Linked DNA regions of Homo sapiens. The protein of the gene in region 1 interacts with the protein of each later gene in a pairwise test. Each region holds a gene or a part of one and is shown on either strand. Other genes may lie near its edges.

Region 1 (4,383 bases):
GTCATCATATCAGATCCAGAAATTAATAACTCAGCCAAGCCATCCATTCTTTGACTTGCACAATGACATTTTTCCCTGTGAGATTTCAGACAATCTCGTGTATTTGTAGTACTGTGACAAAGTTAAACAGAGTGAGCAGCCTGTGGACCTGTTTCAAGTGCCATCTCATCCCCTTGCCATAGTGGTGGGTATAAACCTCAGTCAGTCCGGCTCTCCCCAGCCTGAGAATGACAGTAGCGATGGTATCCTTGGCTCCTAAATAGAAAAGTATACAAAATAAAGACAGGTTGGTACACGGACAGAAAGGCAGGTGGATTAGAGACTTGGTATTTTAGAACTTAGTTTGTTGTCCCATAGCTTTGTCTCTTCCAATTTGGATTCTCAGTGGTGTGGCCCAAAGCATTCCTAGAAATGAACACATTTGGGAGAGATGAGTCATTGTGTTTTTCTGGGCTCTTGGGCCAGGGCTACTTTCAATTTGAACATTTTCATGAGTGGAGTTTCAAGATGTATTTATACAATTCTTACGATGGTGAGACAACGTAACACCTTTGACCTAGGACTAAAATGAACATGGTCCAAAAACGTCTTCATTGTCCACTTGACACCTACTGAAAGAGCAGGTGTCATCAAATTTACAGAAGGCATGATTACAGCAACCTTAATGTTGGCAGCATTTGGGATTCAACTTTATTATTCCAAAAAATTAATTTAATGCTTTTTAAGAACACTTACATTAGATGTACCTATATACCATCTAATTTCTCTATTCCAGGCACCAAAATAGGTAAAATTACCAAAGAAAAATATTGCCCTTCCTTGAGGAGTGAAATTACTTAGGTGTGTCCCCAGTTGTCCGATATAGTCCAGTATTCCTTCCTGTTAGGTGAAAGTTTTGAGCTCTGTGGACCTCAGCCTTCCCTGAACACTGTCAGTGTTTTATAAATTTCTGTTGGCCAGTGAGATCCCAGTGAAGACAAGCCCTGTTGAATGACTGTTGACAGGACTTTAGATGAAGTGACCACGCAGCCTCATGAAAATAAACTTAGGGGAATTTCCGAAAGTTCTCCTAACAGTTTCTCGTGGAAATCCCAGGGCTGTTTGTTTTGTTTTGGTTTTGCAACAAATGAAGGCTCAGAGCTACATTTCTTTCTTTGTAACACTGAGAGAATATTCTAATTTTTCATTTTTGAAGTTTTAACTTATAAACTTAATAAATATGTTTAGAGTACATTTAAATATAGAGGAGCTGTTACTCTAACTTCTGTGGATCTAACAGATGACCACCAAATGAGTGACTTGCTACAAATTTTTTTTAAAACATTACTGAGAAGATGTTAAACAAATCTGTGTCGGTAGGCATAAAAGGACTTTTTTCCTTTACTACAGGCATGTATAAAGGAAATAGAGAATATTTTGGTTTAAAAAAAATTTTTACACTAGCTGCAGGCTTTTTGAGTTTGTGGAACATGGAATGTTTGAACTTTTTAAAAAGAAAACTGTTTAAAAGGAATTGCAAAGATATTTAACTCTCCAAACTAATGATCTTTATAAAGTGTTTTTGTTTGAAGATTATTAAGGGAATAAAGATCAACTAAATTCATGTATGATAGCCTAAATTTTATTTTACAACCCTTTATTTTCATGTGGGCTTTATCTTTTTACATTATTCAAAAATCTGCTGGAGAGATATTAGTTTAGAACTATGCAATGTAGATTACCAGGGAAAGCCAGTCAATTAGGTTTTTTGCTTTAAAAACAAAACTTTGGAGGACAACAATTATTTCTAAAACTGTGCAGATGCTCCCATATCTTTAGAAAAAAATAAATGTAAGTAGGTTGTGTGTTATATTTGGGTGAGGTCATTTCCTGAGATGAAAAAAAATTAATAGTGTTGGTAGGTAGTAACACTCTAAACAAAAATTATCCAAATACCTCGTATCAGGCTTTTCTGCAATATTGCAGTGTAATTTTATTTTACTCTTTTACTGAATTCTGTGAAAAGGATTACATTTACAAAACCAAGTTGTTTTAAGATAGATAGGAGTCTAAAGTATTATCCTTTCAGAGACGCACAGGTAGGGGGATCACTTTGTTTATTAATTTTGATCACTCAGCATTATAGGAGGTCTGGTGGTCTAAAGCAGACTCTAGAAGCTGCCCCTGGAGATCTGTCTATAGATTCTCCATTGAGACTCAGGACCCACCCACCCATGGCTTCGTTCTTGCCCAGGAGGCTTGAGGAGAGAAGTTCTAGACAGGAAATGCAAGGGCAGAGGTCTTCAGGGCCTAGCAGTCCCTGTAAATAAGTAAAGTAATCTTGGTTGTAGAACCCAAAATCAAATTTATAAAAACAGTGTGTGGGACAAACAAGATGCACTGTGAGCTGAATTTAGTCCTTGGGTGCCAGGATGGAGAGCAGTCCATACTCCTTATTTTTGCTCAAACCCACAGTCCACAGGCTGTGCCTGAATCTAAAACTAAAAATATAGACTGTGTTTGATAGAAGCAGAAACATAAATGGAAGCAATCTTTTGGGGCAAAAAACATGATCTAGGTAAAAAAAAAAAAAAAATTCAATACGTAATTTTAATCTGGATAGAGACCCCATAAGCATAAGAATGGTGAAATAAAAGCCTCCTTTCTATGACCTTTAAGAAGAATTTTCTTGAAAAGAAAACTCCTTGGGAGTTTTTATTTGCACTGGTAAAATTTCAGACATCTTATAAAAGCCCTATTGTGCACATATTCCCTCTTGAGTGGTCTGGAGATATGCTGGGCATGGTTGGAGCCCAGTCATGGTGTAGGTGGAAGAGGGTAACCGGAGGGCTTGAGTCCCCCTTCTAGTTCTGACCCTGCCTCCAACTAACTCATAACTTTGGATAGGTCACTTTAGCTCTCTGGACTTCATTTCCCTCATCCGTGTGGTCTGAGGTCTTTTTCAGGCCTATGAATCTATAATCTCAATGTTAGTAGGCCTCTGGAATTTTATTGGCTATTGAAAACTTGATGGTCCTGAAGATTCTCTGAGTATTCTTCAAGGTCAGGTTAATTTCTTCCCACTCAGCTGGGTGGCAGAGTGAAAAGAGAGTGGAGGACAAACATAAGTGGGATAATGATAGCAGAAGCAGATTTTATCTTAGCCAGAGAGTCCAAATTAAAGTCAAGTTTTTATCCTCAGAGAGTCACTGCTATAAGCTCTGGTCCCAGATTGCTTTTCCACACCTATACATTAGAGAAGCTTAAGAAACCAAATGCTGCATTTAACCTTGGCCTCCCACGTACCATCTTGCATGGCAGGACGCAGGATAATCTTTTCCTTTTCTTGTTCTATTGCACATTTTAATAAATAACAGAGGGAGAGAGAGATCAGTAGGAATTGGACAGTGAAAACTATCTGTGCTTATATGAGGAATGAGGGGCACGGTCACCTCCTCGGAGGTGAAGTTGCTTGAGAGCGTGAAATGTATTCTCAACCATGTGCATTTGCTAATGGAAAGGTCTAGTTACCACTCAGGCACAGCAGAGTAAAACTGCATCGGAATCCCACCTCTGTTGCGCAGTGGGCATTGCCTTCTGGTCTTCCCATTTGAGATATTTTCCCACTGGCAAACTTAGTACTAAGTTCCAAAGTGCATACATAATGGGAGAAGGTGGTACATTATCACTTTTTAAAATAAAGAGCCCAAAGCCTTGGGAAGGAGCTAGACCTACGGGACTTTCAAGTTCTCTAAAGCAAATGGTCTCCAATCATGGGTCTGCCCTATGGAAAAGACCCAGTGTCCTAGGCCAAACCCCCTCCCCCCCCAGCAATTAGTCTTAATCGGTTTACCACAATATTACTCAAGGCTCTGTGGGACTAGGTTTGTTTTTTCATCTATAAAAGGGAGGGGGTAAAATTAAATACTTTCTAGAACTCCTTCAGTTCCATTGGAGTTTTATGTTACAAACCCCTAAAACTGTGTAGAGTTGGGTGACTCTGTGGGTGTATTCATATAACTCCTTTGTGTGGCTACTGTAAATATAGAACTCAGACATCTCTCTACCTACACAGGGCTAAATCACTACGCAGAATTCTCCTAGCCAGGACTGAGATGATGGTGAGGCTTGGAAGCACTCATCTCAGATGCAGAATTTAAGGGTGTACTCAAAAATTCAGATAATGTTTGAATGAAATATTTTCAAAAATCAAAATGAACGCCAAAAGTCTATGAACAACAAAATTTCAAATTTTTAAATGCAGGATCAGTAACAGTATTGAGCCATATTGGAGTCTGAGGCAAAAGAAAAAAATCAGTCATATGAACATTTAGTGATCATGAATTTTTGGCACTCATTCTTAAAATATTGTAGTAAGGTCTTATTCATCTTGATTACTACGTT
Region 2 (4,383 bases), on another chromosome or scaffold:
CGAATCAGTTGGAGTATCAGTTTTCAACGTACTTTTCAACTTACTAGTACAGCTTTGGCTTCTGGACTATTGTGCAGCCATTTCAAATGAATCATTTTGTCAATGTATCATGAGCCAAAGGACAGATTTGTAAATTCCTTCTTCCTCCTCCACCTCTACAATGTCTTACTATGTTAAATGTTAAGGAATCCTCTATCTGTGGGCTCCTCTGTATGTAATTCCTTTTCTGTGTAGTTTCTTCCATCTTTTGCTTTCATGTAGTGTGGCTCTTCCCTTCCTCAGAGTGATCCCTTCTGTTTTTTTTTTTTCTTTTTTAGACAGAGTCTCTCGCTCTGTTGCTCAGGCTTGAGTGCAGTGGCGTGATCTCGGCTCACTGCAGCCTCCGCCTCCTGGGTTCAAGTGATTCTTGTGCCTCAGCCTCCCGGGTAGCCAGGACGACAGGTGTGTGCCACCACACCCGACTAATTTTTGTATTTTTACTAGAGACAGGGTTTTGCCATGTTGGCCAGGCTAGTCTTGAACTCCTGATCTCAAGTGATCCACCCGCCTCAGACTCCTAAAGTTCTGGGATTACAGGCATGAGTCACCACACCTGGCCAGAGTGATCTCTAAACCTCCTATACTTGGATAAAAATAAAAGGAATAGCATTCTTTTTTTTTTTTTTTCTTTTTTTGAGATGGAGTTTTGCTCTTGTTGCCCAGGCTGGAGTGCAATGGCATGATCTTGTCTCACCACAACCTCCGCCTCCCAGGTTCAAGCGATTCTCCTGCCTCAGCCTCCTGAGTAGCTGGGATTACAGGCATGTGCCACCGCGCCCAGCTAATTTTGTATTTTTAGTAGAGACAGGGTTTCTCCATGTTGGTCAGGCTGGTCTCGAATTCCCGACCTCAGGTGATCTGCCCGCCTCACCCTCCCAAAGTACTGGGATTATAGGCGTGAGCTACTGGGCCCTGGCGACATTCTTTTTCATACATTTACTGGCATTGGAAGAAAAGAATGCAGCAGTCCGTATAGGCTTTTCATCATTCCTCAGGTGCTGCTTGTTCCTAGCTTCCATCTGAAGATTTGTCATTATTTTAATAAAATGTTTTGGCCAGGTGTGATGGCTCACACCTATAATTCCAGCACTTCAGGAGGCCAAGGTGGGAGGATCACTTGAGGCCAGGAGTTTGAGACCAGCCTGGGCAAGATGGCAAGACCCCATCTCTACAAAAACAACAACAACAACAAAAAATTAGCCGGACGTGACAGTGCGTGTCTGTAGTCCCCGCTACTCAGGAAGCTAAGGTGGGAGGGTCACTTGAACCCAGGAGTTTGAGGCTGCAGTGAGCTACAATTGCATCACTGCACTCCAGCCTGGACAACAGATTGAGACCCCCATCTCAAAAAAAACAAAACAAATGAACTTTTGTGTTAGAATGGGGAGAGGGGACGGGCAATGGGGAGGAAAAAGTGTAGTGCTGTGATAATTGTATAGTGGGTTGAAAGTATATTATGAAGGGTATTTTACTTAGAGAAGGAGTAAAAATGTTTAAGTCATAGTAAAAGGACACTCTTAGATTAAAAAGAAAACACGGAGGAGGAGGTAAGGGGGTCAGCAGATAAGAGAGTAAAAATTCTTTGGTGAAAGCAGGTGGAGAATATCCTCAGCAATACTCCCAGCACCTTAAAGTGAATTGGTTTTCTCTCTCAATCTCTCTCGGTGTACTCCTCTATTTGGTATTGTATTTCAATTTGCTTGCACAATAAGACTTGGTTGTTTAGCTCATCTTCTGACTTCCATGAAACAAAATGTTATTGTATTCCCATTTGTAGCGTGAATCTCTCTCAAAAAGACCACTGATCTTAGAAACCTCTGTATTCATGTTAGTAAATGTCACATTTTAGAGGAGAGGAGACTCCTGACCTGAAAATCTAAGCTTGAATCTATAACGTCCTTTAAATATTAGGCCTAAATAAGGTAACATAAGTTTTCAAACCTGATCGACAATCATATTGTCTGGGAAGCTTTTTAAAAATACACATTTCCCAAGTTCCATCTAAATTTCACTATTGATTCTCCTGGAGTCCTTTGTTTTTGTTTTGTTGGGTTTTTTTTGTTTGTTTGTTTGTTTGTTTTGAAGTCCTCTAGATAGTTGATTTTGATAATCAGCCAGATTTGGGAATCCCTGATAGGGAGAATGGTGTGTGCCAAAGTTACATTGTATTGATCAAGTAAGGGCTGCTTGACTCAAGGGTCCCCCTGCGGTGATAAGACCTTTGTGGATCATATACAGATCTCTATCTTTAGTTCAAGTATATTTCTCCATTTTGATAGCCAAGTCACAGCTAGCCTACCCATCATTTTACTGCTGTTTTCTGGTGCTGAATTTTGTTGAGGGGTGGGTTGGGGATGTCACCTTGAGGGGAAGTATTTTTTAAGAAGTGTCTAGACCTGGCTCACACCTTAATCCCAGCACTTTGGGAGGCTGAGGTGGACGGATCGCTTGAGCCTAGGAGGAGACCAGCCTGGGCAACGTGGCGAAACCCAGTCTCTACAAAAAACACAAAAATTAGCTGGGCGTGATGGCATGCACCTGTAGTCCCAGCTACTTGGTAGACTAAAGTGGGAGGATTGCTTGAGCCTTGAGGGTTTGAGGCTGCAGTAAGCTTTGATCATGCTACTGCACTCCAGCCTGAGCAACAGAAGGAGACCCTGTCTCAGAAAAAAAAGTGTCCAGGTTTTGTTGGATAAGAAGGACCAGGGTCCTCTAACTCACTGCAGGGTCTCCTTGCCTAGCTAGTTCTCTTTGGTATGCTTGGTGGTATGTGTAATATGTAGAGTTAAAGATACTAGGCATAAAATAGGTGATTGTGTCAACATCAGAAACAAGAAGAAATGGGAGTGAGGAGAACATGAACTTATTGAGGAGTATTTTTTTCTTTCCTAATGTAGTTAAGAAACATAACCAGAAAGAATAAGATTATTTAACTGAAACATATTTCTAAAACTGAAACAAACATGATACTAAAATAGCTTGTTTATCATTCCCCAATTATGCATTTTTAAAACCTTCACAGAATGTGGCTTCATGTCTCAGGCTTTAACATACTTATTGAGTATGCACACCTCTCTCTGCTAGTTACAGTGTGCCTTACGAGAAGATTTTTCTGATTATCTGTTATTGTGTAACCATTGGCCCAGCTCTGTGTAAACAAGCTCTTTAGCCTGGCCTGCTGGAGGTTGGCTCTTCCCAAGAAAGTTTTTAGAACTCAGAGGAACTGCATGAAGTAGTAGTGAGAACACTTAGCCCTGCATTGCAGAAGTTAACTGATCCTCTCAGCATCACTGTGAGGTAGGTAAGTAAATCTGAACTTGAAACCTAAAGTGCAAGGCTAAACAAGTTGCTTAAGTCCTTGCAGGAGGTATAGCATCAGAAGGTGATTCATACACTGGGATCCCTGGCCCCCAGGCTTGTGCTCAGAAAGATCCTCTGTTCTGTTGACCGCTTGATAGAAAACTGGAATTTGATTTATTAAATGTTTGACATTTTTAATGAAAAGAAATTGATTCAGAAACTTTGTGAATTTTGCTCACTGTTTTGAGAATCTAAAGACCCTTTTTCTTCTTATTTTAGAAGCTGCTAACCTGTGCCAAACCTCCACGGCTGCTACGACACCTGTGACTCTCACTACTCCATTCAGTATAACATCCTCTGTGTCGTCTGGGACTATGTCAAACCCAGTCACAGTGGCAGCTGCAATGAGCATGAGAAGTCCAGTAAATGTTTCAAGTGCAGTTAACATAACCAGCCCAATGAACATAGGGCATCCTGTAACTATAACCAGTCCATTATCCATGACCTCTCCTTTAACACTCACTACCCCAGTCAACCTCCCCACCCCCGTCACTGCCCCAGTGAATATAGCACACCCTGTCACCATCACATCTCCAATGAATCTACCCACACCTATGACATTAGCCGCCCCTCTCAATATAGCAATGAGACCTGTAGAGAGCATGCCTTTCTTGCCCCAAGCTTTGCCTACATCACCGCCTTGGTAAACAGTATTATAAAATCAAAATATGGGTAAAAGTAAATATTTACCAGCAACTTAACTTTTAGTTGATTAAAGCAAAAAGTAAACCATGAAATTGGGAGATTTTATTACATTAGTTAATAAGAGTGTGGTAGCATTTTTCTCCAATTTGGCTGGGATTATTCAAAGTAGGGTGTGTATGTAACTTATCACTGGACCACTTTAGTTTAATCAGAAATTCCTTTTAGCTGACAACATTGCTTAAACAGGATAGTAGTTGGCAAGATGAAATGCCAGAATTAAAACCAATCATAAGTAGAACCCACTTCAAAATAAAAAAACAGCATTACTATTTCTAATCC
Region 3 (4,383 bases), on another chromosome or scaffold:
TCAGTGCTTCCATAATGCCTTACTGTAGCAGCATTCCCTCCCTTTTCATAGTTGTCCTCTATTAACTTCAAATAAAACAATCATAAATATCATTAGAATCCTATGTAATATTAGGAATAAAAGACTTTAAGGAAAAACAAAAGGACTGTATGCAATATAATGATAGGCTTCAAGTATCTATTCCTCAAACACACGCACCTATTGAGACTTTTTCTGCTTAATTCTTGTGTTCTAAACAGTCAGGATCACTGTAATATTAAAAGAAACTAAGACCAGTAACAAAACATATTTAAATGTGTGGCTATCACATTTCCCATTATGTACTATGTATGCTAAAACTAGATAGGAAAATAGGATAGTATTCAGTCTTAAAAGTTCAGCAAATTCTGGCACAAGCTATAACATAGACAGATGAACCTCAATGACATTATGCTAAGTGAAATAAGCCAGTCACAAAAAGACAAATACCATAGGATTCCACTTATATGATGGTGATAGCTGCAAAACAATGTAACTATAATGTTATTGAACTGTACACTTAAAATGATTAAACTGGAAGTTTGTTATATTTTACCACAGTTGAATAAAAAAACCTAGATGATACAAGGTTTCCTCACGATTCTGCTTGTTTTTAAACTTAACATATAATGACTTAAGTTCTTAAGTATAGCAAAATCAACATGGTTCTTAATGAATTAAAAAATGTTCAACACTTGTAAACTATTTAGCTGCTTGCTCCCAGTACAAAAGCATGTGGTAATTAGAATTTATTTCTTCGACTCTATTTTCTATTACTATTAACTATTTTGTGACTTTGAGAAAAAACCCACATTTAATCCACTTTTGGCCTTTGATGAAGTGGTTTCAATTAGTGATTTAAACTCATTTTCAGTGCTACAAGTAACACTGTTCTTTCTCAGATTATGACAATCCAATCCTAAAAATGAATGTCATGAGTACCACTTCTCCATTTGTCTCTTAATTCTACACTGCATTATATATCTTTAAATAAACAAGTATATAAATAGTCTCTTAAAAAAATCCATGTTCATTCTCTGCTTTAAAAAAAATTTAATTTTATAAATTGTTCCAAATACATTCCAGCCTACTAAATCACAAAAAAGTATCTGTTTAAAACTTCCAGGCTGGGCGCGGTGGCTCACGCCTGTAATCCCAGCACTTTGGGAGGCCGAGGCGGGCGGATCACGAGGTCAGGAAATCGAGACCATCCTGGCTAACACGGTGAAACCCTGTCTCTACTAAAAATACAAAAAAATTAGCCGGGCGTGGTGGCATGCGCCTGTAGTCCCAGCTACTAGGGAGGCTGAGGCAGGAGAATGGCATGAACCCGGGAGACAGAGCTTGTAGTGAGCCAAGACAGCGTCACTGCGCTCCAGCCTGGGCAACAGAGCGAGACTCCGTCTCAAAAAAAAAAAAACAAAACAAAAACAAAAAAAACTTCCTCATAAAAATCATTCCATCATTTCTTTAGTTATCTTTTCCCTTTTTTTAGTTTCTAAAAACATATTCTTTCACTAAGAACTATCACTGTAATAATAAGCTTTCATGCCTTTTCTGTCTTGAGGAATCTGTTAGGACTAGTACGTAATTTAGCAGGTCTATTTAAGGCAAGCTTACAAAAACTACAGAATAAACATTTATTCCACTTATAAAGACATTTTAAAAGAATTATATAATGATTTCACTACTGTAGCAAAAATAATTTTAACATGACATTTTATTTTTCAATTGTTTTAATTTACATAAAATTTTATTAAAACTATATTATAGTTTAATGTGTAATTAATGTAAAACATTAATAACTTTATGTTTCACTTAAGGTAAATTCTTAAAAACCTTTCATAGTAGTTAAGTGTACACCACTATGGATGTGTATAAACTGTGTCCATTGTGTGGACTTGTGATCATCATTTTTAAAAAGACCTACATGCATAAAGATATACAGAATGAGGTTGAAACTTACTTTGGTCACCATAACCACCACAAAGTTTTTCTCATCAATTTTATATTCTTTGAGAGCAGTATCATCATTGAGGATTTTGCCTAATACATTAAGAGAAAAAAAAATCATTTAAGGCATAATCTTTCTCTTACACTTCAGTTAAAACAACTTTCTACTCGAAATATGAATATTTCAGAAATATTAAAATATGAATCACCAACATAAATTCTATCAGTTAATACTTTTCCCAAAGAAAAACCAATCAATCAAGATAAAAATAAAACAACTCCTAAGTGGCAGGGCATGGTGGCTCACACCTGTAATCCCAACACTTTGGTAGGCTGAGGAGGAAATATAGCTTGAGGCCAGGAGTTTGAAACCAGCATGGCCAACATAGCAAGACCCTGTTTATGAAAAAAAAAAATTCAAAATTAGCCAGGCATTGTGGCACATGCCTATGGTCCTAGCTACTTGGGAGGCTGAGGCAGGAGGATCACCTGAGCTCAGGAGTTCAAGGATACAGCGAGTATAATCACACCACTGCACTCCAGCTTGGGTGACAGAGCAAGACCCTCTCTCAAACAAATAAAACTAAAAAGCATAAGCATTTGACTAAAAGATGTCAAACTTATATAGTGTATATAGAATGACAATCAATTTTTACAAATGTATTGATTATATAAAAGACTTACTGGGCAAGGAAATATGAAAGAGGCCCTGAAAAGGAGGAGATCATGAAGATAAAGAAAATTCAATACTCCGATTGCACAGGGGTCCTCTGGAAAATAACCTATATTCTTTTATGATATGAAGAAAGGGAGAGAAACAAATTTCCTGCTCCCCAAAATACTGATATCTGATAAATCAGAAATGTTCTAACACTATCAAAGCAAGATACTAAAAGTACTTCAGAAAACGACATGATACACAAGAAAGGGCAAGATGCTACAGAACTTAGAAATGCACGAAGTACACAAAACTGTGGTCGTGCTGAAGGTCACTATTAGGTAGCTAGGACTCTCTAGTGTTTCTTGCTACATGAATTTAGTTTTCCACCTTTAAAAAGCTATTGAATCAAAAGCTGCTAACATTAAGTCAGAAAGGAATATGGATAGGAATGAGAAAACAGGCCAAAACAAGAAACTGGAAATTTGAATTTTATGTCCGCTTCTTTAGGCTTCTGAATTCTGACCTATAAAAATAATGGGACTGAATCACCAGGTTAGCATTTCCTCCAGGCTGTCTCACTTTAGGAAACACTATTCAGAAAAAGAGAAGAATCCATGGGTGATCAAACACCCACCTTACTAACATCTACAATGAAAGCATTTTCTCTAAAAATTTGGATATCAAATGTATTTTTAATATACATTTTCCTGGTTATTAGTGAGGCTAGTCAAATGTATAATTCCTACTCTTATCCTTTGTTGCTTTATTGGTCATCCTTTCCTTACTGATTTCTAAGAATTCTTTACATAATCTGAATATTAATTTTTTTTCTTCCTGTAGGTGTCTGTGTGATGTGTTTTTTCTGTACTCTTCAGTTAGTTTTGGTTAAAATAATTTTACAGGAATGATTCCAAGCATACTAATAATAACACAATCAGTATAAATGGTTTCAATTCAATTTAAAAAAAAAAGCTCCGTTTGATTAAAAAAACAAAAGCCAGTTACACGATGCTTACAAAAGATAAAACAAAACTAATACCATTTGATGGAAAAATACACAGGGCAAATGTGAATAAAGAGAAGATTGAATATTAATATTAGATTCAAATGACTGCTCTTTCACTGCTTTTATTTGTACAATCATTTTTCTGACAATTTGAATATACTACAATATATAAGATAACATTTCTAAAACTAAAAGAATATCAAGACATGGCATGTTAATTTTAATATTTAATTCATACCTGCATAAATTAATTTTTGACCTGCTACTGGAAAGGCATCTTTCCCCTTTTCAGATTCAATCTTCTCTTTCAGTGCTTTCACCTATAGGAAAAATAAAGATTTGTTTTGGAAAAAGTCTAAATAAAAAATGACAATCCAGAATCTGAATAAATAATGGAAGACAAAAATTATATACATAATTATTAATGTTTCCAAAACCTCAAATATTATGTTTTTCCAATTTATATCAAAAAAGATTCAACATTAACTCATATTACTAGTTATGATAGCCATAAACTTTAACACCATCTGATACACACAGATTTTTAAAAATTTACTAGTTGAACTGATAATTTAAAATAAAGTTTTCAACATCAAAGTTTTGGTTTATATACTGTTCATGGGTTTATTTCCCACGGAGCAAGAAAGTAAAGCTTGATCACCTAAAAAATCTAAGAAATAAAACAGTCTCATCAACAATAAGAATACTTCAATGTTAAAGGTTAAATTGTGAATGTTAAAAGGCA
Region 4 (4,383 bases), on another chromosome or scaffold:
TAGGAATCAATTAAAGTCAGTATTTCCTTGTCCATCCATTGCTGCTCTGGCCACAGACTAGGTACTCAGTAAATTTGCCCAGCTCACTGAGAATTGAATCTCCCACTACAATGGGATTTTGAAAAAATCCATCACTCATGGCCTGGTTAGCACAATCTTTGCTTCCACTTTCATTGGGACATGCTCTGCCTAAAAGCGAAGAACCACAGGGCAGTAGGCCTATGCTGTTTGGCAAAAAAGGAAACAGCAAAGAAGACAGGTCCATCCTCCTTTCTTCTGGAGTCAGCACTGAATTATTTGTGGTAAAGTCCCTGCTGGTGGAGTCTCTGGGCCTTTGGCTTTTTACTGTTTGGACTATTTGTATTCCTTAGCATCCCCACCAGAGAGAGAATCTTGGGCAAGAGGTGACGTCCACAAGAGCCCATTCACTTAGTGACTGAGAGCTGTAAGGGAAGGAAAAGGAGGGCAGGAAGAAAGGCTGGAATTAATGCTTTAAATGAGGCTAAACAATTTACCCGCAGAGTTTTCATTCATCCTACTTTTTGTCTGTTTCTATCACATGTCACCCACCAAGAATTGACTCTATGACTTTACCCCTGTGAGTTGCAGGGAAGAAAAGGGTGCTAGCTCCTGCTCTGGCCAGATTCCCTCTGAGCGACTTGTGGAGTCTTACTGGGGGATTCAACTCTTCTTCACCTCAATCAGCAGTAAAGCCTACACAGACACTGGGAGCATGACGGCAAGAGAAGGCCACCCACCTCTCTACACCCCTAGATGACACACTACAGGATCCCAGTGGAGTATACAGAAAATTCCAAGGAGACCAGGGGCCAGGGGTTCTCGGTGGAACCATGGCAGGGAAAGTATCAGAGACAGAAATATGAGACTCTGGGTAGTGATAAAATAAATTGTTTTAATGGAAGGCTTTCTGAGACTGCAACTTTTTCTTCTGCTATCAAACAGCCAGTTTCCCTGCCCTGGGGTTTCTTAGGGAGTGCACGGCTGAGCTCCTGGCCCACAGGAAGCTGGCATGTTACTCTGACACACTACATTCAGCCCCTCCAGGGATCCAGAGGTGTGTCTTAATGTCAGGAGACTGGAGTTAGCTGGTAGTCAGTCCAAGGTATGCTGTCCCCATAAGTGTCCAGGCCCGCGGGAGAGGACAAGGGGCTTCACTTCCCACTTAGGATGTTTCTCCATGAGGGGAGAGGGGACAGATCACTTTTGAAATTTTGACTCTGACCTTTACAAAGAAAACTAATAGACACTTTAGTATTATATACAGGGCAGAGGGGAGAGGACACAGAGGGGAAATTGCACTTAATTACAGTAGTTTATAGTTTACAGCCATTGGACAAATTTACTTCTTTAAAAGAAATCTCAAGATCATTTGGGATGGGGGCAGGGGAGGGAGTCTGTGGATATTTACAGTGTGTTTGGCTCAGTTCAATAGCACATGTCCTTCTCTCCTCATTTCAGTAACAGATTCAAGTTTTCGCATCAGTTTGTTCGATGAAGGATCACAACATAGACAGTACGGCTTTCTTGCTTCCTCTTCGGAGGTTCCTTGTCTCCCACCTCCAGGACAGACAGGAGTCCTTGACATCGTGGGAGAGGCATTGTGGCAATACTGCATAGAAGGGAAACTGGGCTTCGGGCTGCGCCTCCTGAGAGTGGATTGTCTGAGGTGCCAGCAGGACGTCCGTCAGGTAAGCAGGGACCTCTCGCAGGTGCTGGTCAGGTCACTGGGCTTTTCCATGACAGCTGCCCAGAGGGTGATGGTGTGGAAAACAGGGTCCTTGTTGTTGCGCACGAAGTAAGTGGTGTGTGGGCATCACCAGGCTTGTAGAGGACACTGCAGAGAGAGAGGAGAGAGGGTGCTCAGCTGTGTCATTTGGCAGGGTCATGGGCCATTAGTTTGGCTTCTCTAAGGGAGATGATGCCCAACTCAACCAGCAAAGAGCAGCAGGTGGAGGGCTGGGGGCCTCGTGTCTGCTCAGTTCTGCAGTTTTCATGCTGAGGCACACTTCCTGCAGGAAAACCCGGGAGCCGGCTTTCCTGGCCACTTCAGAAGAAAGAAGTGAATTGCTGGGGACCTTGAAGTAGTCTTAACTTGCTGACCTGAATCCTGAAGCTGGGCTCCTCTTTCTGTGACAGTGGCATTTATAGAGTGCTTAGTGTACTTGAAAAGGCAGCTGGATGGTGAGCTCTTGCCTCTCGTGGAAGCAAGGGTCTCTTCCTAAGACCGCTAAGAGCAGAGGCCTCCTATACTAATGCTTCTCGAACTTTAACGGACCCACAAGTACCAGAGAGCCTGTGAAAATGTGGATTCTGGTTTAATTCTGACTTGTAGGCCTGGGGTGCACCTAAGAGTCTGCATTTCTAACAAGTTCCCAGGGTGTGCCAGTGCTGCTCACCTAGGGCAGCAAGGCCAGAAAGCACACGAGAAAATGACCACTCAAACTACTCATCAGGAAGGAGCTTTGCAAATTGCAAAGTGCTTTCTACGGGTTTCTTACTTTAGCATAAGAAACTCAGAGGACCAGGGAAAGGATCCAAAGGCTGAAGGCCTCTGATGCCATCCTTGTGGGTGGGCCAGGGCAGGAGACCCCAGAATGGCTGGAGAAGCCCTCGAGAGAAGCCACCTCACCCAACTCAGGGCAGCCTTGCCCTCCAGTGCCTGGGCCTTATTCATTTGAACTGTCATGGAGTGTCACTGCTTTCCTTTTCACTTCTGGGGAGTCTCTTTTTGTCTCCCTGTGTCTCCTCCTTCCCTTTTGCTTTTGCCGGCATCTAAGGTTCTGCCTTTGACTTAGTGGCTTATTCTCTCAAGATCCCCCCAAACACACACACACACACACACACACACACACACACACACACACTTACACCTACCAATACCACTAAAGGCCACTGTTATCGCATTGATCAGTGCTCCAACCATAACCCTATATGAGGATACCATTATGTCTATTTGACAAATTAGGAAAACAAGGCTAAAAGAGAGTCAGTGAATTGTCCATGGTTTAAGAACTAGGAGAGTGTGGAGCCACAGCTTCAAACTAGCTGTCTAGGTGGCCACTCAGCATGTGCTCTTTCAATCATGCTTGGAGGTGAGGAGCCTTCTACTAAGCTTTGTGCTCTTGGACAAGTTACTCTCTCTGTGCCTCAGTTTCTTCCCCTATAATATGGGAGTTGTTGTGTGATTAGATGAGTCAACACCTGTGGAGTCCTGAGCATGGTCCTTGGCACAATTGTTATTATTAACATGGGGTTCTTCGGCCCAAGCCCCTGCTGCTCCTCAGTACTCTTAAGAGTGGGGCTGAAGGCCTGGCGCAGTGCCTCACGCCTGTAATCCCAGCACTTTGAGAGGCCAAGGCAGGTGGATCACAAGGTCAGGAGATCGAGATCAGCCTGGCCAACATAGTGAAACCACATCCCTACTAAAAATACAAAAATTAGCTGGGCATGGTGGTGCACACCTGTAGTCCCAGCTACTTGAGAGGCTGAGGCAAGAGAATCGTTTGAACCCAGGAGGCGGAGGTTGTGGTGAGCCGATATTATGCTACTGCACTCCAGCCTGGGCGACAGAGCAAGACTTGGTCTCACAAAAAAAAAAAAAAAAAAAAAAAAGAGGGGGGCTGAGCAGTGCGTGCATGTGAGGAGACAGGCTTCTGACCCTTCCACATTCTTGAGACGTTGGTCAGGGTCCTCTGATACCCTTTGCCTCCTCTTCCTCCCCTGGCCCACCCCCACTCTCAAGTCTCTTTACTTCCCACTATCAGCCTTTTTCCAATTTTCAGATTTCAGGTGGAGGAGAGAGAAAACGGCTTGTGACCTTGCAGGTTTCAAAAGAAGAGCAAACAAGAAGGGCAGATAAGGAGACGCCAGTGAGATTCTATGGCCTGTCATTAGGGATGGGCTTCCCAGCTATCAAATGTTTGCTCACATAATAAAATGGTGGCAGAGCCCAAAATGTTGTCAAAAGAACTAGAGTTATTTGCCTCCTTCAGAGTCTAAACACAAACATCTGATAAGGGGTGCACTGTGGTCCCTTAGAACTGGAGGCCCAGCACACGCAGCCCCACGGGGGCCTGGCCCAGAAGATCTCTGAGAGACCGCGGGGCCCTCCGTCTGAAAGGTGTGGTAGCTGTGGCAAATGTGAAGGACATCCTTATTCTAAGAGGATTTGTTACATAATGGTAAGAGCTAACATTTATCGACATCCTACTGTGTGCCAGGCACCATACCAAGGGCTTCACAAGCATCACTGCCTCGAGTTCTTACGTCGACCCTTTGAAGTAGGTGATTATCGTGAATTCATTTAACACGTTTGAGTGCCTACTGTGTACTTGGCACTTTTTTAGACACTGGAGATGCAGC
Region 5 (4,383 bases), about 96 Mb from region 1:
CTCCCAAGGTCGGTTTCTGATTTTCTTTTTTCTCTTTTTTTTTTTTTTGAGACGGAGTCTCGCTCTGTCGCCCAGGCTGGAGTGCAGTGGCGCGATCTCGGCTCACTGCAAGCTCTGGCTCCCGGGTTCACCTCATTCTCCTGCCTCAGCCTCCCGAATAGCTGGGACTACAGGCGCCCGCCACCACGCCCGGCTAATTTTTTTGTATTTTTAGTAGAGACGGGGTTTCACTGTGTTAGCCAGGATGGTCTCGATCTCCTTACCTCGTGATCCACCCGCCTCGGCCTTCCGAAGTGCTGGGATTACAGGCGTGAGCCACCGCGCCCGGCCGGTTTCTGATTTTCTAATCCCTGGGGTCACGGAACAGTATTTGTTTTTCTGCGGTTAGTTTCCTGGCCTTTCCCTGGGGATGGCAGAAGACAAGTCTTGAGAGGTTGTCTCAGTTGGGATTCTTTGGGCTGCCAGGGCCTGGATTATTAAACCACGAAGAAATGCACTCCTCACACCCGGGGAGGTCCGAGGCAGGCAGAGGAGCTCACCATGTCCGCGTGGATTCAGGCCTCTCTTGGCTCTGCTCAGTTTCTTATCTTTCCCTGCCCTCCCCACCTCCTCCGGCTCCTGTGGCTATGGAATGGCAGCTAGAGCAATCGAACTGTCTTTCTTCCTACTCTACATCAGGTAAGACAAAGATTTCCTACGAAAGCTCTTTCTTAAGAGTTAAGGAAGAACTTTTCCGGAACCGCTCCTCCCCTCTCATTGGTTGGAACTGGCCAAATTGCCAGCCTGCTGAGCCAATGACTGGCCATAGAGGGAATCACACTTGGACCAATCAGGTCCAGCCCTTGAAAGGCCGTCAGTTCCCACCCCAAAGAGCACTGGGATCGCTCTGTGAAGGGGAGGTTACCACAACTGCTACCGTAAATGCATTTCTCAGCTTTCAGAACGCTAGTCAGAATGGCCGTGGCCATAGTCTGCAAAGCAGAGCATCAGGTAGCATTTGAGGTCGCCCTGCACGGAGATAAAAGTGGGCCCACAGCTGCTCTTCCAGTATGAGGACGGCCTCAGAACACTGCTCTACCACACGGCCCACGCTCGCTCCTCTAGCCCAGGCGCAGCCGATTCGCATTCTGCACATGCCCTGTGCTTCGTGGACATTTAGCATCCATGGCTTCCGCCTGATACAGGCCACCCCCTTGCCCTGACTTTCCAAATGCTCCTCAGTCGGGGCGCCTTTGAGGAGACGACATGCTAGTTTCCCAGAGTCTCTCTGTGGAGCCTTAGGGCCAGAGAGCGTCCGATTGTCTCTGACCCTGGAGTTACAGCCCTGGAATGCCTCCGTTTTTTAGAAGGTTCCTCAGCTATCAGGCCCAAGCCTGGAGAACGACAGAGATGTCACCCATTCCTGTCCTTCCAGTTTGCAGGCCTAACCAGCAGTGTGACTTGCCCAGAACTCCCAGCTCCTGCTTCAGTGACTGTGTCTCTGTCATCACACATTTTTTCACATTACTCTGCCCTTTGGTCACCTGTTGATGGTCAACCCTCCATTATCTCCCCTGATGCTTCTCAACTGAATCACCTGTGGAGTTTTTTTTTAAAGTCAGGTGCCTGGCTGGGCGCAGTGGCTCACACCTGTAATCCCAGCACTTGGGGAGGCCGAGCAAGGTGGGAGCAATGCTTGAGCCCAGGAGTTTGAGACCAGCCTGGGCAACACAGTGAGACTGCGTCTCTACTAAAAACTAAAAAAAAATAAAAAGGTGTGGTGGTGGTACACCTGTAGTCCCAGGTACTCAGGAGGCTGAGGCAGGAGGATCCTTTGACCCCAGGAGGTCAAGGCTGCAGTGAGCTATGATTGTGTCACTGCACTCCAGCCTGGCAACACAGCAAGACTCTATCTATCCCAGACACACTGAATCAGAGCCTCTGAGGGTGGGGCCTCAGGAATTGCATTTTTAACAAGCTTCCCTCGTGGCTAGTGCAGTAGGTCCTATTGGAGGGAACTCCCAGTGCAGATGTTCAATGGCCTACCAGCTACTGCCTTGGTCCTTTCCCCGACCCCCGAACATGGGTCCACCAGACTGTGGCTTCTGATCTGGTTTTCCTCTGATGTTGGGTCCACCATGAGAAGACATGCGTTCTGTTCCATGATGGCTCAAAAAAAGCCAGAAGATTAGGACCTCATACCCAAGGCTTGTATGAAAGGGCAGCCAAACAGATGTGTTTACAGCCCCAAAGTGCCAAGCCCTGGAGTCTCACATGAAGAAAACGAAAGGAAAATACAGTCATGGGCTACATAAAGATGTTTTGGGCAACAACAGACCACCTATACAATGGTGGTCACATAAGATGATAATGGAGCATATATGGAAACCTGATATATGGCACTCGATATTGGCATTGCACATCAAGTAGGGTAAATAATTGATATTCAGTAATGGAACTTGGATTTTTGGTTTTCCATATGAAAAAATATATATAAATAAATATATGGGCTGGGCGTGGTGATGCCAGTCTGTAATTCCAGCATTTTGGGAGGCCAAGGTGGGTGGATCATCTGAGGTCAGGAGTTCAAGACCAGCCTGGCCAAAATGGTGAAACACCATCTTTACTAAAAATACAAAAATTAGCTGGGCGTGGTGGCGAGTGCCTGTAACCCCAGCTACTCTGGAGGCTGAGGCAGGATAATCGCTTGAACCTGGGAGGTGGAGGTTGCAGTGAGCCGAGATCACACCATTGCACTCCAGCCTGGGTGACAAGAGTAAAACTCTGTCTCAAAAAAGAAAAGATAAATATATGTATATATGCCATCTAGGTTTGCATAAATACACTCTGTGATGTTCACATGACAAAGTTGCCTAAGGACACATTTCTCAGAACTTATCCCCATCAGTAAGTGATGCATGACAGTATCTACCAAATGCCTGAGCAATTCTGCCAAATTTGACTGTGCCAGCACGAACACTTCCCCAGGAAGAACACATCCAAAGAGAAAACAACCAGAATCTAATGTCTCCAAATCATGGAAACAGCTTTTCTGGGTTTTTCAGGGAGGCCTATGGGCTGATGTTTGTTGGGTATTAAGGGAAGCTGGCAGCAGATTCCCTCAGCTGTGGCCAGAAGCAGGGCTCTGCCTGCACTGCTGTGCCCAGGTTTAGGCCAGGCCAGGGCTGGGCGATAAGGTAGGCAGAACAGAGAACTCCCATGCCCGAGGCAGGGACAAAGCCACAGTTACTCCTGCTGAGCAGTGACACCACTGCAGCCCCTGGTCCACCTGGAGAGGTTCTGCTGCAGAACTGTTGTGTTAGAGGCCAGCAGCACGGTCAGATGGGCCCAGGAGGCTCTGGAATGCTCCATTTCAGTTCAGACATGAGCTTCCCTGTGAGTGTGGTGGCACTCTGGAAAGGCTGTGGAGCCTGGTCTGGGGTCCCCTCTCAGGCTGGCTTGTGAGGGGGATTTGCACAGGTGAGCACAATGTGTGGCCTGCGACTTTGGTGGGCTGATTGCTTAAGGACAGGGATTTCAGTTCTGGGTCCCTGTTTCAGGCCTGCCAGGGAGCAACATGTAGCTGATAGGCTTCAGAGCTGATGGACACTGAAGCACAGGTCTTTCTGTGGCCCCTTTCCAGATCCTCTTTGAAATGACCACAGAGATATCAAGTAGAAGGACAACAGAAAATGTCCGGAAAACTAAGAGAGGGGCCAGAGTCCCAAGGGATTCAGTTCCAGGAAGTCAATTGAAGGAAGACAGAAAGGGCAGACACCAATCCTCTTGGAAGAGCTGTGTGTTGCAGGAAGGGAAGAGGAGAGGAGAGACCCTGGCGGAACCTGCCAGTACCTGCCAACTCAGGGTCAGAGAACTTCCTCTCCTCTCCTAGGCGTGATTGCCAGTGCAAAGGAGATGTCAGTTAAAGTAAAGCATGCCCAGTTCAATTTTTAATACAAAAACGTCCCATGCATGATTCAAAACATTCTTATACTAAAAATTATTCATTCTTTATCTGAAATTCAAAATGTAACTAGGCATCCCGTATTTGTATTTGCTAAATCTGGCAGTCATGTAAGTGTAAATCATGTTTCTGTAACATATTTAATATTCTCTAACACATTAGGGGGAAGCAGGATGAAAAACTGTCTAAATAGCAAGATTCCAAATTGGAAATATATATTATAGACCTAGGGAAGTGACTGGAGAGAATTAGATCAATGTGTCAACAATGGATATCTGGGTGGGATTGTTTCTCAGTAATTCTTATTTTCTTGATCTGTTTCTATTTTCCAAAATTTCCACAATGAACATGTATGTCTCTTATAAAGCAGATAATGTTCAATTATGTGCCAGGTATGTCTGTTATAAAGTGGATAATGTTCAAATGTAACTAGATACTTC
Region 6 (4,049 bases), on another chromosome or scaffold:
GCACCATGCCCTTGGCCTTCCCAGCCTCTAGAACTGTAAGAAATAAACCATTTTTCTTCATAAATTACCCAGTCTCAGGTATTCAGTTACAGCCATAAAAAAACAGACTAAGACACAGGCAACTATTGTCTGTCTTGTACTGTGAGGTTCCCAAGGTAATTATGAATCATGTCCTGCAGGCCCTGGGGAGATTAATTCTGCTGCTGTTAGCAGAGCCAGCCAAGCTGAGGTCCCTGCTGCTTCCTGTCTGGGCCTGGGGTACGGCCTTCCGGGTGAAGGGTCGGCGGGTTCCAATCTGATTATAGTTGCCCGGAAGTGCTTATGCTGCATCATCTTGCAGCAGAGAACTCCAACACTCTGCCAAGCCAGTCAGGATGCCACAAAGAGTGCATTCACTTACACCACTACCACAGTGGCTGCTCTAATTACTCGGGAGGTGGGGACAGCAGGAAGGACCCAGCTACCAAATGTCAAATCGGCAGAGACAACTGGCTGCATTGTTTCTACCTGCCTTCATGAAGATCCACTAGGGGACCAACAGCCCAACAGGAGGCATCCCGGATGTATTTCTTATCTTGTAGACATATAATTTCCCAAAGGACAAGTACACTGTGTCTTTGATAACTTGTCTCTTGCACCACAAACATCATGGGTGTGTTCCAAGTGGAAATGCTTCAGAGACAATTATACAGAGGCACATGCTTACGAAAGTTGCTGTGTGCAGCCGCTGCCATTTCAAACAAACTCCCCGCTAATTACATGACCCAAAGGTGCCAGATCACCTTTCCTGAGGTGCCTGGGCCCCTTTCAGGGGGAAAGTTGCTACCAATGAAGAGTTCAACCTCCCCACCCCTACTCTCACCCTCTGGGCTCTGAGCTGCTCCTTAGAGGGTAGGGCAGAGTCCCTGTTGTTCCTCCTCCCTGGAATTGCCCCCAGTGGATGGACTCCAGGAGCCTCATACATTCCCTTTCCCAAGGTAGAGCCTGGCCAAGCCCCGACACTCACCGCCCGCCCGCTTATCTTCTGGGCTATTGCGCAGGTGGCTCTGGCTGGCTTCCATGGGGGGCTCATCACTGGAAGGGCTGGTGACCCCCGGAATGGTGGGCAGATCCCTTGGGGGTGTTTTGGTCACAGGTGAGTTCCGACACTCCATCAGGAATTTCCGGTCATAGATGATCCTGGTACCTAGAAGGGAACAGGGAGGTTGGTCAAGCCATCTGCAGCCTCTTGCCTGCCGGTTTTTCCACTTTTTAAAGGCGTGGCTGCAGTAGAGGCAGCAGATTCTCCTGAAAAACCCAGAGGAGGCTGGGTGCGGTGGCTCATGCCCATAATCCCAGCACTTTGGGAGACCAACATGGGTGGATCACCTGAGGTCAGGAGTTCGAGACCAGCCTGGCTAACATGGTGAAACCCCGTCTCTACTAAAAATACAAAAATTAGCCAGCGTGGTGGTGGTAGCCTGTAATCCCAGCTACTCAGGAGGCTGGGGCAGGAGAATCACTTGAACCTGGGAGGCAGAGGTTGCAGTGAGCCGATTGCACCACTGTACACCAGCCTGGGTAACAGAGCGAGACTCCTTTTCATAAAAAAAAAAAAAAAAAAGCCAGAGTAGTGAGGCTTATTTGGGGGCCTGGCTGCCACCCAGAACTCTGCTACCTCCAAACGGCCCCAACTCCCCTTCACATGGAATGATCCAATGGAAGGGGTCTGCAGGCCACCAACTGCACCTGTGTCTTCCCAGAGCTCTGTGCACACTGTGCTCTGTCCCTATAGCCCCTCAGCTCACTCACCCACCTGGGCTTAGTGTTAATTACCCATGACAATCACATACCACGGTGGAAAAAATGCATTTCTAGTCATTATTCAGTCCTGTCCTTACAGCACTCCTGTGGGATACCCAGAATAGCTGCATTTTACAAATGACCAAACAGAAAATACTTGTGATTCAACCAGAGTAGTAAAAATAAGAACTTTTGCCAGGTGTGGTAGCTCACACCTGTAATCTCAGCACTTTGGGAGGCCACCGTGGGAGGACTGCTTGAGCCCAGGAGCTTGAGACTAGCCTGGACAACTTAGAGAGACCTCATCTCTACAAAAATGTTAAAATGAGTCGGGCATGATGGGTACGTGCCTGTAGTCCCAGCTACTCGGGAAGCTGAGACGGGAGGATTGCTTGAGCCCAGGAGGTCCAGGCTGCAGTGAGACCCTATCTCAAAAAGACAGTTCCAAAAAAAAAAGAGAGAAATGCCTGGGCTTTGCGGAGAAGAGCCAGAGGCAGGAGTGAAGGGTGGGCTCTCCTGCTGAGCCCCTCCTTTGTGAGGCCCCCAGTGTGTCCTGCCAGTGTGTCACTGACCTTGGAATTCTACCCCACCATCCCAAGTAGCTGGGATTATAGGTGCGTGCCACCATGCCCAGCTAATTTTTTGTATCTTTAGTAGAGACGGGATTTCACCATGTTGGCCAGGCTGGTCTCAAACTCTTGACCTCGTGATCTGCCTGCCTCGGCCTCCCAAAGTGCTGGGATTACAGGTGTGAGCCACCGTGCCCGGCCCCTTTGTATCTTTTTATAGCTACCTTCTATTTATGGCAAGTGAATCCGGTGTTCCATATATAGTAGTGATAGCAATTCCTTTTAATATACAATAATATAATAATATATTATAGATTCTATAATAAAATAATGTAAATTAAATTCAAAAGCTAAGGTGATATAAAGAAATATTAAATATCTGTACAAGTGGAATGCAAGGTATGGTAATAATTGTGCAGATAAAATATGAATAACCCAAGTTTGGGAATCATGATTTAAGGACTTCAGGAATGCCCTTCCTTAGCAATAACCTTGAAATCTCTCCTTCACTTAGGGGCTATGATGAGTAGCATTCCAACAGCTGAGATTCATTTCTTACACTTTATTTTACTTTTTTGATTTTTAATTTTTATGGATCCATAATAGTTGTACATATTGAGATTCATTTCTTGATGCTCAGCACTGGACTCTGTAAACCCCTGGAAAGGAACCAATTTCCATCTCGGAGTCTGAGTGTGAGTTCCTGAAACGGGGCTCTGTGCTGAGGATGACGTGAGATGCTGAAGGGCAGAGGAATGCAGAGAGATACCTAAAGATAAACTTCACCTGCTGGCTGTGTTCCTCTAGTCTGGCTGTGGCCCCTCCAGGCAGTCACTGGTCTTACTCTCCTGTCCCCTTGCAGGAGAGGCAGTGATACTGAAGCTGACAGCCCTGCTCATTGCCTATGGGACTCCAGCGCACAGCTGTTTCTTAGGAGGAGGGGTGTAAAGAACCAGGGTGCATTTGGGCTCCGTTCCCAGTCAGCTGTGTGACCCTATGCACCTTGCTCCTTGCACCCCCTGTTTTGGGCCTCCATCTCCTCATCTGTAAAATAAAGACCCATGCACCTTCTAGGTCTGAGTGCCTATGAGCCCAGATTACAAATGGAGAGCAGTGGTGCCCTCTCTTTGCAGGGCTGGGGTGACAGTGAGGGGAGGTAAGGGAAGACCAATTTCTAACTCTTTTTTTTAAAAAGTGACCCAGATTTGTTTTGGTTCTAGAGGCCAGATGTGGCACTGCTCCACTCTGCAAGGCTTGGGGTTGTACAATCTCTCCTCCCCAGAGGGGAGGGAAGCCCAGAGACCCCAGGGTCCAGGCAGCGGGGTGGGGACTCAGTGGACAAGTGGCTGGACATCCTGGCTCCAGATGGGACCACTTTTTTTCTGTTGTTTCTTAATCTTTGAGACTCGGCAAGAGTGCCCCCCTTCTTGTTTCCCCCCAACTTTGCTTTTTGTTTGTTTGTTTTGAGATGGAGTCTTGCTCTGTCACCCAGGCTGGAATGCAGTGGCACAATCTTGGCTCACTGCAATCTCTGCCTCCTGGGTTCTAGCAATCCTCCCGCCTCAGCCTCCCCAGTAGCTGGGACAACAGGCATGTGCTATCACGCCCGGCTAATTTTTGTATTTTTTGGTAGAGACAGGGTTTCACCATGTTGGCCAAGCTGGTCTTGAACTCCTGACCTCAAGTGATCCACTGGCC
Region 7 (5,112 bases), on another chromosome or scaffold:
CCCTGGGGGCAGGGTCAAGGTGCAGAGAGGGCCACAGGACAAAGGGAGACTGGACTGGGGGAAGCAAGCTAGCGAGGAGAAGGGGGTTCCTGGAAGAGGGGACATTGGTTCTGGGCTTTGAAGCATGAGTAGGAGCTTCTAAAGCAGATGGAGTTGGGAGAAGGGAGGGTGCTTATGGCCAGATCACAGCAAGCATTCAGAGAATCCTATATAATCCACACATCTCTGGATATTGTCATGTTATCAGCAAGACCCTGCCTCCAAAGATACCTTCACTTTCATACCTTCCCTTCCTCTCCTTATAATGGGAGGAAGAGGCCGGATGCAGCGGCTCATGCCTGTAATCCCAGTACTTTGGGAGGCCGAGGCGGGTGGATCACCAGAGGTCAGGAGTTCGAGACTAGCCTGGCCAACATGGTGAAACCCCATCTCTACTGAAAATACAAAAAATTAGCTGGGCGTGGTGACGGGCACCTGTAATCCCAACTACTCGGGAGGCCGAGGCAGGAGAATCACTTGAACCTGGGAGCTGGAGGTTGCAGTGAGCTGAGATCGTGTCACTGCACTCCAGCCTGGGCAACAAGAACGAGACTCTGTCTCAAAAAAAAAAAAGAAAAGAAAAAAGAAAGAAAGAGGCCGGGCGCGGTGGCTCACGCCTGTAATTCCAGCACTTTGAGAGGCCGAGGCAGGTGGATCACGAGGACAGGAGATCAAGACCATCCTGGCTAACATGGTGAAACCCCGTCTCCACTAAAAATATAAAAATTTAGCCAGGCGTGGTGGTGGGCGCCTGTAGTCCCAGCTACTCCGGAGGCTGAGGCAGGACAATGGTGTGAACCCGGGAGGCGCAGCATGCAGTGAACCGAGATCAAGCCAGTGCACTCCAGCCTGGGCAACAGAATGAGACTCGGTCTCAATAAAAAAAATAAATAAATAAAAAATAAAAAAGAAAGAAAGAAAAGAAGAAAGAAAGAAAAAAAAGGAGGGATTCCTCAATGGGGCAGAGCAGAGACAAACAGCTAATAGTCACATTTTTTCTAAAGGGCAGACAAAAGATATTTTGCAAATAACTGAATACCACACACACTATCCAGATTATAAGGCCAGTTCTCCACTCAGAAGCCCTCACCTGTGACACCATACCTTCATTAGGGCATGCTGAGCAGCAGCCTTGCAGAGACCATCCTTGGTGGGTCTGAGGTCCCCAAGCTGCTAGGGACTGTCTCTGAGAGAGACATGAGTCCCTAGGTCATATGATGACTAGGAACTCAATGAAGGTGGGGTGGGGAGACCTAGAACTTTCATCCTGACCACTCAGTTCCCTGTCGGGGTCCCATCAGGGAATACCCTGGGTTTAGGTTTCTGTGTGGCTCTGAGCATGTTCCTCTCCTCTCCCTCTCTGTGCCTTGGTTATTCTATCTGATAAGCAAGAAGCTTGGGACAGACAAAATGTCTGTCCTTGGGGCCTTGGGGCTCTGTGCATTTACCCTTCAGCCTGGGATCAGCCCCGCCCTGTCTGAGCCTCAGTTTCCCCATCAGTAATTTGATCGTGATGGCCGAGGTGACCCTGCAAGCTGTCCTCACCCAAACAATGGGGCTCACTAGTAAAAGGTGTGGCCATCAATAATGGATGTCCTGTTACTACACAACTGGGGCCTTGGCCCCGATCACACTGCAGCTGAACCCTGGCCAGCTTGGGTTTCATAGCTCCAAGTTCATGGGTCGGGGCCCCTGGGCAATGGCCCCACAGGCCGAGTGATGATGTGGGATACTCATCTGTGCCCATCGTGCTGGGTCACGCCAGGGACCTGCAGCAGCCTTGGGCCACCTCCTCACACCCTCATCTTAATGCCAAGCCCACAACCCAGACTGGGCTCTGGACTTTGCACCTGGGCTCCCAGCCTCAAGTCCCAGTCTCAGGAGAATCTTTATCTTTCATTTTGTTTTTCTGAGGCAGAGTCTAGCTCTGTCACCCAGGCTGGAGCACAGTGGCGTGATCTCGGCTCACTGCAACCTCCACCTCCCAGGTTCAAGCAATTCTCCTGCCTCAGCCTCTTGAGTAGCTGGGATTACAGGCACCCACCACCTCGCCCAGCTGATTTTTGTATTATTAGCAGAGATGGGGTTTCACCATGTTGGCCAGGCTGATCTTAAACTCCTGACCTCAGGTGATCCACCCACCTTGTCCTCCCAAAGTGCTGGGATTACAGGCATGAGCCACCGCGCCCAGCCTCAGGAGAATCTTTCTAACGTGCTGATGGTCTCTCCCCTGCTCATGCATGCTCCATAGCTCCCTGCCACCCTTGGGAGAAAGCCCAAGCTCATCAGCCTAGAGACTGGGACAGTATGACAAGATGTGACTTGTCAGCTTCTCCATCTCTGCCTCTGTCCACTGACCACACCTGCCCCCCTTCCCCATTTGAGTCCCAACAAATTGGAAATACCAGTTGGGCATGGTGGCTCACACCTGTAATCCCAGCACTTTGGGAGGCTGAGGCAGGGGGATCGCTTGAGCCCAAGGGTTTAAGACCAGCCTGGGCAACATAGTGAGAGCCCCATCTCTATAAAAAAATACAAAAATGAGGTACATGTGGTGGCTCGCACCAGTGGTCCTAGCTACTCGAGAGGCTGAGGTGGGAGGATCACCTGACCTTGGGAGATCGAGCCTGCAATGAGCCATGATTGCACCACTGCACTCCAGCCCAGGCAATAGAGACAGACCCTGTCTCAAAAAAAAAGAAAAGAAGGAAGGAAGGAAGGAAGGGAGGGAGGGAGGGAGAGAGAGAGAGAAAAGAGAAAGAAAGAAAGAAAGACTACTTACACACACACACACACACACACACACACACACACACACACACACCAAATTGCAAATATCCTCCAGCAATGAATAGAAAGTTGTTTTTCCAGATCTTCTCTCCCTTCCTCCCTGGACTGACCTCATGATCTCCTTCCTTGTGAAAAATGTGCAGTCCTGTGGAGAGAGGTGTTGTCTTAACCCGAACCCTGCCTCTGGGGCCTCCTCCCACGGCCTCCTCCCTCCACCCCACACTCACACAGATGGCCTGATGCTGCCACACACAGAGCAGAACCAGGAACCCAGGCGGACGGTACACCCAGATGAAGGCATTCTGTTCCCATTTCCCAGACCACGGAACCAAAGTTGTCAAACCCACTGAGGACCCATCCTGCCCCCCTCTACCTGATACGCTTCCAGCTGCTCGTGTGTGAAGACTGTCTGCTTGTTGCCCATGGTGTGAACCACAGCCCAGACTTGGGGATGCACCCCAAAGGCTCCCAGCTTCCTCGGGGCCACACGGGTTGCCAGGCTGTTGTGTACCAGTGTCTGGGCAAATCTCCCTGCCCTGGCTGTCACCCACCCACCTACGCCATCACCCCCTGCTTGATGAGACTCAAATTACAGCCAGGCTCTCTGGACAACAGCCTGAATGTGTCCATGGGTAAGGATAAGGGCTGTGGGATGTCACAGAGAAGACCTCAGTGGGGAGGCCACATCTGCCACCACAAGGTGAGGCTGGGGTTATGGGGCACACTCAAGAGACAGGCAGGGTATACAGAAGGGCTATGGGCACACTGCAGCTCAAATCCCAGCTCTCTGCCCACTAGCTGTGTGGCCCTGGGCAAGTCACCTGACTTCTCTGAACCTCATTCATGAGATGAAAATTACATTATACCTACCTCATAGGGTCATTCTCAGGATCTGAGATTTAAAAAAAAAAAAAAAAGGTTTTGACTGGGCAAGGTGGCTCACACCTGTAATCCCAGCACTTTGGGAGGGCCAGGCAGGCGGATCACCTGAGGTCAGGAGTTCAAGACCAGCCTGGCCAACACGGCAAAACCCCATCTCTACTAAAAATACAAAAATTAGCTTGGCATTGTGACACATGCCTGTAATCCCAGCTACTCCAGAGACTGAGGCAGGAGAATTGCTTGAACCCAGGAGGTGGAGGTTGCAGTGAGCCGAGATCCCGCCATTGCACTCCAGACTGGGTGACAGAGTAAGACTCCATCTCCAAAAAAAAAAAAAAGGTTTTGGCTGGGCGAGGTGGCTCATACCTGTAATCCCAGCACTTTAGGAGGACAAAGCATGAGATTCACTTGAGGCCAGGAGTTCAAGATCAGCTTGGGCAGCATGGCAAGGCCCTATCTCTACTAAAAATACAAAAATTAGCTGGATGTGGTGGTGCATGCCTGTGGTCCCAGCTACTCAGGAGGCTGAGGTGGGAGGATTGCTTGAGCCCAGGAGTTTGAGGCTGCAGTGAGCCATGATTGCATCACTGCATTGGGAACATAATGGTGAACAAGCTAGATGAAGTTCTGGGGTGTGCATTGACATTATTATTTTATTACATTTTATTTTTTTGAGACAGTCTCACTCTGTTGCCCAGGCTGGAGTGCAGTGGTGTGATCTCGGTTCACTGCAATCTCTGCCTCCCAGGTTCAAGTGATTCTCCTGCCTCAGCATCCCAGGTAGCTGGGACCACAGGTGTCCACCATGCCAAGCTAATTTTTTTTGTATTTTTTTTTTTTGAGACGGAGTCTCGCTCTGTCACCCAGTCTAGGGTGCAGTGGCGTGATCTCGGCTCACTGCAAGCTCCACCTCCCGAGTTCAGGCCATTCTCCTGCCTCAGCCTCCCGAGTAGCTGGGATTATTACAGGCGCCCACCACCACGCCTGGCTAAGTTTTGTATTTTTAGTAGAGACAGAGTTTCACTATGTTGGCCAGGCTGGTCTCGAACTCCTGACCTCAGGTGATCCACCCGCCTCGGCCTCCCAAAGTGCTGGAATTACATGTGTGAGCCACCTCGCCCGGCCCAAAGGGCAGATCTAATGTAGCAGCTACCAACTTTATTAAGGCCCAGAATCCTCTTGGGTGGAGAATCTGAGAGTCTAAATTTCTTAGCCTGGCCCTCCATGCCCTTCTCACTTTGGGTCTCACCTGTGTTTTCTCTACCTGGCCTGGACTATTGCAATGTTTCCCAGCAGGCTTTCCTGCCTCGGCCTCATCAAGCATCCTCTGCCAAATCTGTGCAGTCATCTTGTAAAATGTGACCCTGATCAGGCTTGAAAGATGCCTCAAGGATGACTTTT

What was found.
Region 2: the proteins of POU6F2 (region 1) and VEZF1 interact in binary tests that used the Homo sapiens proteins (3 or more experiments, as listed by UniProt).
Region 3: the proteins of POU6F2 (region 1) and RAD23B interact in binary tests that used the Homo sapiens proteins (3 or more experiments, as listed by UniProt).
Region 4: the proteins of POU6F2 (region 1) and HNF1B interact in binary tests that used the Homo sapiens proteins (3 or more experiments, as listed by UniProt).
Region 5: the proteins of POU6F2 (region 1) and STRA8 interact in binary tests that used the Homo sapiens proteins (3 or more experiments, as listed by UniProt).
Region 6: the proteins of POU6F2 (region 1) and EIF4EBP1 interact in binary tests that used the Homo sapiens proteins (3 or more experiments, as listed by UniProt).
Region 7: the proteins of POU6F2 (region 1) and CIB3 interact in binary tests that used the Homo sapiens proteins (3 or more experiments, as listed by UniProt).

The regions. Positions count from the first base shown.
Region 1 is NC_000007.14:39,340,852-39,345,234, forward strand, and holds part of POU6F2 (POU domain, class 6, transcription factor 2), read left to right. Parts: intron 1-4,383. UniProt on the Homo sapiens protein: Probable transcription factor likely to be involved in early steps in the differentiation of amacrine and ganglion cells. Recognizes and binds to the DNA sequence 5'-ATGCAAAT-3'. Isoform 1 does not bind DNA.
Region 2 is NC_000017.11:57,974,136-57,978,518, reverse strand, and holds part of VEZF1 (vascular endothelial zinc finger 1), read left to right. Parts: intron 1-3,618; coding exon 3,619-4,046; 3' UTR 4,047-4,383. UniProt on the Homo sapiens protein: Possible transcription factor. Specifically binds to the CT/GC-rich region of the interleukin-3 promoter and mediates tax transactivation of IL-3.
Region 3 is NC_000009.12:107,299,716-107,304,098, reverse strand, and holds part of RAD23B (UV excision repair protein RAD23 homolog B), read right to left. Parts: intron 3,959-4,383; coding exon 3,877-3,958; intron 2,065-3,876; coding exon 1,985-2,064; intron 1-1,984. UniProt on the Homo sapiens protein: Multiubiquitin chain receptor involved in modulation of proteasomal degradation. Binds to polyubiquitin chains.
Region 4 is NC_000017.11:37,685,538-37,689,920, forward strand, and holds the end of HNF1B (hepatocyte nuclear factor 1-beta), read right to left. Parts: intron 1,856-4,383; coding exon 1,835-1,855; coding exon of another isoform or gene 1,743-1,834; 3' UTR 894-1,742; downstream 1-893. UniProt on the Homo sapiens protein: Transcription factor that binds to the inverted palindrome 5'-GTTAATNATTAAC-3'. Binds to the FPC element in the cAMP regulatory unit of the PLAU gene. Transcriptional activity is increased by coactivator PCBD1.
Region 5 is NC_000007.14:135,246,815-135,251,197, forward strand, and holds part of STRA8 (stimulated by retinoic acid gene 8 protein homolog), read left to right. Parts: intron 1-4,383. UniProt on the Homo sapiens protein: Meiosis-inducer required for the transition into meiosis for both female and male germ cells.
Region 6 is NC_000008.11:38,054,218-38,058,266, reverse strand, and holds part of EIF4EBP1 (eukaryotic translation initiation factor 4E-binding protein 1), read right to left. Parts: intron 1,187-4,049; coding exon 1,007-1,186; intron 1-1,006. UniProt on the Homo sapiens protein: Repressor of translation initiation that regulates EIF4E activity by preventing its assembly into the eIF4F complex: hypophosphorylated form competes with EIF4G1/EIF4G3 and strongly binds to EIF4E, leading to repress translation.
Region 7 is NC_000019.10:16,170,223-16,175,334, forward strand, and holds the start of CIB3 (calcium and integrin-binding family member 3), read right to left. Parts: upstream 3,304-5,112; 5' UTR 3,254-3,303; coding exon 3,203-3,253; intron 2,975-3,202; coding exon 2,940-2,974; intron 1-2,939. UniProt on the Homo sapiens protein: Acts a an auxiliary subunit of the sensory mechanoelectrical transduction (MET) channel in hair cells. Plays a role in regulating hair cell MET channel localization and function.